Linked DNA regions of Homo sapiens. The gene in region 1 interacts genetically with each later gene. Each region holds a gene or a part of one and is shown in the gene's direction. Other genes may lie near its edges. The genes, in order: TOP1 and ROR1.

What was found.
Region 2: changes in TOP1 (region 1) and ROR1 together harm fitness more than expected from each alone (negative genetic interaction), as found in Homo sapiens cells (one large-scale study listed by BioGRID).

What each region holds. Positions count from the first base shown.
Region 1 is NC_000020.11:41,098,075-41,101,902, forward strand, and holds part of TOP1 (DNA topoisomerase 1), read left to right. Parts: exon of another isoform or gene 1-140; coding exon 141-263; exon of another isoform or gene 264-750; intron 751-1,981; coding exon 1,982-2,169; intron 2,170-2,583; exon of another isoform or gene 2,584-2,718; intron 2,719-3,097; exon of another isoform or gene 3,098-3,134; coding exon 3,135-3,279; intron 3,280-3,828. UniProt on the Homo sapiens protein: Releases the supercoiling and torsional tension of DNA introduced during the DNA replication and transcription by transiently cleaving and rejoining one strand of the DNA duplex.
Region 2 is NC_000001.11:64,042,825-64,046,652, forward strand, and holds part of ROR1 (inactive tyrosine-protein kinase transmembrane receptor ROR1 isoform 1 precursor), read left to right. Parts: intron 1-3,828. UniProt on the Homo sapiens protein: Has very low kinase activity in vitro and is unlikely to function as a tyrosine kinase in vivo. Receptor for ligand WNT5A which activate downstream NFkB signaling pathway and may result in the inhibition of WNT3A-mediated signaling.

The sequences.
Region 1 (3,828 bases):
AAATTCATTAATTGAGATTGGCTACTTCCAGAAACCTTTGACTGAAAAAATGGTGCTTGGGTGTATTTGCAAAGAAACCCAAGGACTTATTAGTGTATTTTCGTTGTTTTTCTTTCATCTCCCCATTTTCTTTTGACTAGGAAATGACTAATGAAGAGAAGAATATTATCACCAACCTAAGCAAATGTGATTTTACCCAGATGAGCCAGTATTTCAAAGCCCAGACGGAAGCTCGGAAACAGATGAGCAAGGAAGAGAAACTGGTACTACAGAATTTATTAAACCTCTGGAGAATTCTGGAATTGTGATTGGTTCATTTAACTTTCTTCTTGGTTCTTATGACACAACATTAACATCAGTAATTTCACATCATTCTATGCTAAAGACTTAGAGTTCTCAAAGTCTAAATTTTCTTAAAGGTTTTAGTTAGACTGAAAATTGTGAACAAGTACTTTGCTCAGTAGCTCTGTACAGGAATCTTGGTGCTTCAGTGACCTAAAAACCAGTCAGTAACTCCAGCCAATAATATAGTAATTAAGGATGGGCAGACCTGTCCCACAGTGGCTACTGGATATTAAGGATTTAAGACAGATGAAATCATATTGGCCATGTACCTCCCTGCTCTTTGATCTATTTTACTCTGGAATCTTGTGATGCTCATCCATCTCCATCTTCCAGCCTTGGCCATCCTCATTACTGAAGGATCTTTCTGGTATCCAGCTGGGATGTCATTTTTCTTCTACAGGCTGCCTGTTTTTGTAAAAAAAAAAAAAAAAAATTTATTGGAACCAGCTGCCTCTACTTGTCTACATATTATCTACGGCTGTGTTTATGCAACAATGACAGAGATGAGTAGTTGCAAAAGAGAGTAGTTGCAAAAGAGACTGTGTGGCACTCAAGCCTAAAATATTTTCTATCTAGAAAAAGTTGTCAGCCCCTGAACTAAAGGAATCCAGGCTAGAATTTCATTTTTACCAATCGGAAGTCCAGAAGTTAAGGATTTTAAGGAATTCTTTGCACTTCAAATTCCTGTAGTTTCAGTATTTTAAAGGACTTGCGTGTTTACGTAATTCAGACCATTGTATTGATATAACTCATTGTTTCATGGTACTTATTTGGTCACTAGTTTAAAAATTAATGCATTACTATAAGAATGTTAATTGCATCAGACTTTGTGTCTCAGGTAAATCTTATCCTCAATATTCCAAGTTAGTGAAATTTAGTATATTATTTACTTCAGGGGCATTTTGAAACTTAAAAGATCACTTTGGAGCTTTGTTCTTAGAATATTGATCCAAAGATAGATTTTATAAACATCCCCTTGTCAGAGCCTCTGCCAAGGACACCTGCTGCCAGCAAGGTCTGAATCTGTTCCCACCCACAAGGCAGCACAACTTAGTTAAACTGAATCAATAAGTATATAAAACGCAGAGTCAATAGAGGGTAAGGAGGCTCAAAATCTCCCCCACCATCCCTCACCTTTTTGGAGCAAGGATCATAGTATAGAGTGTATATACCTGTATACCTACAAAAAAATTAGTGACAGATCTGTCTGAGCTTAAAAACCCACGTTTTTAAGCTGTTTAACTGCTGTTTAATTAAATGGCTTGAGCTATTCTTTTATGAGGCTCTATCAGAGACTCTTCTCCATTTCCTGTTTTGATAGTACTCAGTAAAACAGTATGAATTTTTAAAGTACATTTAAAAACACCCAAATAACATTTACAAACATATATCCTTTAAGACACAAGAATCAGTTTTGAATCTAGTTGAAATCAATCCTTATAGGCAGATCTTTTTGGGGAATTTTATGATATTTAAGTTTGAGAAAACCACTAGAGGTTTTCCTTTATTTGAATTTATTTTTTAGTGATTTTTCAGACTTTCCTCTACCTTGACTTAGTCTCCCACAAGAGATAAAATGCATTAGTAGAGAACAGCAATCTGAATCTATTTTGAGTACTTTCTTGCTGTCTTCCAGAAAATCAAAGAGGAGAATGAAAAATTACTGAAAGAATATGGATTCTGTATTATGGATAACCACAAAGAGAGGATTGCTAACTTCAAGATAGAGCCTCCTGGACTTTTCCGTGGCCGCGGCAACCACCCCAAGATGGGCATGCTGAAGAGACGAATCATGCCCGAGGATATAATCATCAACTGTAGCAAGTGAGCTCGCACTTCATCCTATGGGCCAAAAAGGGGGTGGAGGGCGTCCTTTATTGTACTTGGGAATATTTCCCAGGTTACACAGGACTGTTTGGGAAGGGAGATACTTAAGAGCAGGACAGTATTTCATGCGTAGGTCTCCAGATGTTTTTGAGGTACAGTTGTCTCCCCTCATCCACAGGGGATATGTTCCAAGACCCCCAGTGGATGCCTGCAACTTCGACCCAATTGCTGTCACTTGGAACACATTTCTGTTGATGTCTTCCACCCCCAAATTTAATGTCTTTTCCATGTTTATTAAGTACTTATCACATAGAGTGGCTATAACTTTTGCAGTCTGAGGCACAACAGCAAAACTAGCACGACTTTCTTTTTCCTTCTTCACAATTTCACAGATGGAAGGTTAATTCTTACCTTAGATCTTAGCAACTTCACCATACAGTTTTTTTTATTAAGTCGATAATTTCCACCTTTTCATTTAAAGCACTCTGTGCAGCTTCTGTATGGCATATCCAAATTGCCAACATCACCACTTTCACACTTTGGGGCCTTTATTAAGTAAAAGAAGGATTACTTGAACACAAGCAATGTAAAACCATTAAAGTCAACCTGATAAATAAGGCAGCTACTAGGTTACCCATGGGCAAGTGACATATACAGCATGGTATGTTGTATATATGGTTCACGCATCCCAGGTGGGACTACAAGAGATTTCATCATGCTCCTCAGAATGATGTGCAATTTAAAACTTACAAAATGTTTATTTCTGGAATTTTGTATTGAATATTTTCGGATGACAGTTGGCTGAGGGTAAGTAAAACCATGCATAAGGTGGGACTACTGTATTGACTGTTAAGAAGGAAACTTGGAAAATTATGCTCAGCAGATAGGTCCACTTGGGGTCATGAAAGGTGAAATTATTCCTCACATCTTATTTCACTATCCTCGTGCTCTGTTATTTCCAGAGATGCCAAGGTTCCTTCTCCTCCTCCAGGACATAAGTGGAAAGAAGTCCGGCATGATAACAAGGTTACTTGGCTGGTTTCCTGGACAGAGAACATCCAAGGTTCCATTAAATACATCATGCTTAACCCTAGTTCACGAATCAAGGTAAGGGGATAGTTGAGAGCTGCACTGGTTCATGGTGCTGATAACCTTTTTTTGTTGAAATGTAACGTTCTCGTCCTCTAGAATCACTTTGACAAATTAAAAATCCTCCCCATTGAAAGAAGGCAAGTACTTTCATAGTTAGCATTATGGTGATCTTCCTACAGTGCCTCCATTTTTTTGGTCACATTGTAATCTTATTTATTAATTCACAAATATTTACTGAAATCCCAAATGTGCCCCACACAGTATACATTTGATGCTAGGAATTATGTTGGTAAACAAGATAGACGTAGGCCCTGCCTTCATATTGCTTAACGTCCAGTGGTCAGAATGTGTTGAAGTATGGTGATTGTATATTGGCCTCTGCAGATGTCTTCTACTTCCTCACCTCTCTTGGTTATGAGAAGGGAATGTAGTTTCTGTATATCCTGAAACAAGTTGTAAAATCTAATGTCTTACATACTTCTGGCTTCCTGCAGTCTCATCTGGGTAGGTTCACCAGGGCCAAATGAAATGTGTGTGAAAGCACATCATAAAACTGTGTTACAT
Region 2 (3,828 bases), on another chromosome or scaffold:
GAAGTGTGCTGAAAGTGAATGCAGGTTGATAGCGTGAACAGAATGTTCTCTCCAAGTCAAATGCGATGACCTAACTGTGTTTGGCAGCCTTCCTTTATGTTTAGCTAAGCATTTCATTTCATGTTGGGAACCTCCTCCCTCTTCTGAAAAGCATCAGTCATGTGGGAGGCTAGGATTTTGGCATGTGCCTCTTTTGATACCAAGACCCAGGCCCTAAACCTAATTGTGACTGGCTCCTCGGCTGACTGGCTGGGTTGCCATGGCAATGGACTGCTCAACTCTTTATATCTCAGTTTCTCTCACCTGTCAAAATGGGAATATAACACTTGGCCCCACCTTCCTCCCTGAGGAGAGATGGGGGCACTTTGAAAATTAAGTAATAAATGTTGGGAAGGATTTGTGGATTTGTGGATGTGACATCTTGTCAAGTGGGTAAATAATAAATGGGGTGTCTCCAAAGCTAATTTGCCTAAAATTCACTTGAGCCTTCCATTTACTTCATCAACCAGCGTTTATTAAATGCCTATGAAGTTCACAATAACACATGAAGTGCTGAGGGGAATACAAAAAATGTAAAAAGGAGGAAATAGAGTCTCAATTCCCAGAGAGGTCATAAAATAACTTTTTTCTTGCAGTTTGCTTTTTCTGGTTCATTAAGCCTCAGTACAGACCATGCCTGCACTGTATTTAAAAAGCTCATTCTCAATGATGACTTCCAGTTACGTCATAAGCAACTAGTGGTGATTTAGTTGTTTTCAGTACCAGTGGGTATTGTCACATGCTTGATGGACTCATAAAAAGGCAAGAATATTTTTTAGTTCAGGTTATGAGTGGTGCAAAGGACAATGAAAGACTACAGGTTGGATTGATTGGGAATCTGATTGCATCAGAACATAATATGGTCTCTGCTGTTCAAAGGCGTGGGTTTGGGTCCTGGCTCTGCCGCTTTCTGGCTGTGTGACTTTGGGAAATTCCTTAACTTCTCTGTGTCTCAGTTTCCTTATCTCTAAAATGTGGTCAGTTTTAGAGTCTACCTCATAGGATTGTTGTCAAGTTTAAATTAAAGTGTGTAAGATGCTCAGAATAGTGCCTGGCATTTTGTAAATGCTCAGAAAAATGTTAGCTATGATCATCACTTTCCATTGTTAATGGGAGAAGATGGTGGCACTAAAAGGATACTGGCATTTCATTTTCCTACATTGTAAAGGTAACAAATCCTTTTTAATTCAGAGTCCTAAACTTTTGCCCAGATCTGACACAATCGCTTGGGATTGCCCCAAAGCCCCAAACTGCTTGTTCGGAAATAGAAAACATGCCATCCAAGCCACTCTGCTCTCTGACTCATACCGTTCAGGGCCTGAGCTAACCCATTTTGTTCTGAAAGCCTTACACCAGTCTAGGACCCTGAGGGCTGGGAAAGGGCAGCTATGGAGTGTGATGGAAACAGCGCTGGGCTTGGTGTCCAAATCCTGGCTTTGCCTTTTATTAGCTGTGAACTCTGGGATAGGCTGTTAAGTCCTCTGAACTGCGGTTTACCCATCCTAATTGTGCAAAAGCAATGGTGGGTGAAACTGCTCAAACAAATTCAGACAATGGCACCAACGGTACCAAACTAGTGGTCACTGTACATTCCACTGCCATATACTTGTAGTTGAAAAGAAAAAAAAAGCCAATTGCACTTAAGAATATCTTCCATGGAGCAGTAAAAATTATTAATTGTATTAAATCTTGACCCTTGAATACATAGATTTTTAATATTTCATATGGCAGATGGGCAGTATACGTAAAGTACTCCTGCCAAGTACTATGACTGTCTCAAAGAAAAGCATTTGAGTTCTGAGCTGAACTAGCCACTTTTACTTTAAAGAATGACCGACAGAAAAATTATGGTTAGTTATTCTTGAATATTCTTTAAAATGAGGAAAATGAACCTGCCGCTTGAAGGAAACAGTAGTATTAATTGCCAATAATAAAATTTGAACTTTCCAGAAAAAGTTAGAATTTTGCGAAACTTTTAGCCACCATCACGAGCTTGACAACTTCTTCCCAATCATAACTGATGGCACTGGTGGTGATATTAATGCATTTGAATTTTCTATATTAGATAAGTAAGGGTGTCCACATTTTGAAAACGAACGTAACTCAGTAAACCAGTGTTCTCTAAACAGGCAATGCATGATGTTACAAAATCGTATGTAGGTAGAATAACCATTCAAAGTACAAGATAAATCAATCCATTATAATTTAATAGATTATGAAAAGTTTATTGATATGATTTCAGATTTCACATTGCAACCAACGTTTAAGAAACTACCACCTATCGAATTTTGGTGTAGTATCAAAGAAGAATATCCTAAATTATCTGAAAGACTATTAAAAACCCTTCCCTTTTCCAACTGTGCGAAGCCAGATTTTCTTCAACTAAAACAACATACCTCAACAGATTGAATGCTGAAACAGGAGGCTTCAGCTGTCTGGTTTTAAGACAATAATAGATATTCAATAATAAAAAAAAAATGCCACTTTTCTCACTATTTTTGGTATACGCGTGTGGAAAATATTATTTTACTAAATATTTTATTAAAATATTTATGTTAAGCAATGGGATTGTTTTTATTTTTAAATAGGTTAATAAACAAATATTTTAAAACTTTCTCCCCTCAGTGGCATCAATATTTTAAGGATTATCTAGGAGTCCTGAGACCAAAGAATTTGAGAACTTCTATCCTACAGCATGGACTCTGGAGCCAAAATAATTTGTTTAAAATCTCACTTCTACTTACTGTCTGTGTGATCTTGGACAACTTTCTTACCCTCTCTGTGCCTTACCCTCTCTGTTTTCCATGTGTAAAATGTTCATAACAATAACTGTCATGATGATAAATACCATTTAGGTGTTAGGTATTACCACCATCATTATGAAATCATTATTGTTGTCAGTGTCATCATCATCATTATTACTAGTATTAGCACTGGAAGGCATCATTTGTTCAGGGACACAGAGCTAGAGGTGGATTCAGTGGGACTGGAACTTTTCCCTTAAGCCAGACTATACCCTACCTCCCACTTACCATCTGCCATCTTGACATTTGCAGTCTAGGGAAGAAGGGAAAAAAAGATGAGAAATCTTCCATAGCTCAAGCACATATCATCAGAGCTACTGAATCAAACCATTGAAAAAGGTACAAACAGCCAGGTTTACACATAAAAGCCAGATTGCTTTGTCTGGCATTCAAGCTCACTGGACACCTGCTGCCTGTCATCCAGTTGTTCTGCAGCTGCCCATATAGAAACACAAACTGTCTCAGAAGAAGCAGACCCAACCCCAAAGGCCCAGATTATGAATCCAAAGCCCAGGGAGGTGAAGTGATGGTCTGACACACATCGCTAGAGAGTGGCAGAACTGCTACTTGAGTCTAGTGTGAATTCCCTCTGGACTGGACACCTTTGCTGGGATGCCCAGGTGTTCTCGTTCTGCTTACTAAGTAAGCAGCTACAGATGGCCAACAAATTTGAAACTTCTTCTTCGTCAGTGAAAAGTTAAAACCAAATTCCCTGTTTGTGGCAAGGCTCCTTTGTTCAGTAAACACAAAGATCTATTTACATTTCTTTTGTTCTCTCTGGAAACACACTGCTTGGGTCATCTACTACACTGATTTCAAGGTGCCCTGCAACCCTCATGTTGTTTTTAGATAGATATTTTATAGAGCAGATCAGGTGAGGTGCCTGGCCTCTGGAGGGAAACCAGAAAGAACATCAGCCAGCACCCATGGCTAAAGCTTAGGCCCATTAACCAGACAGTCTTGGCTGAAGTTAGGGGAAGAGCAC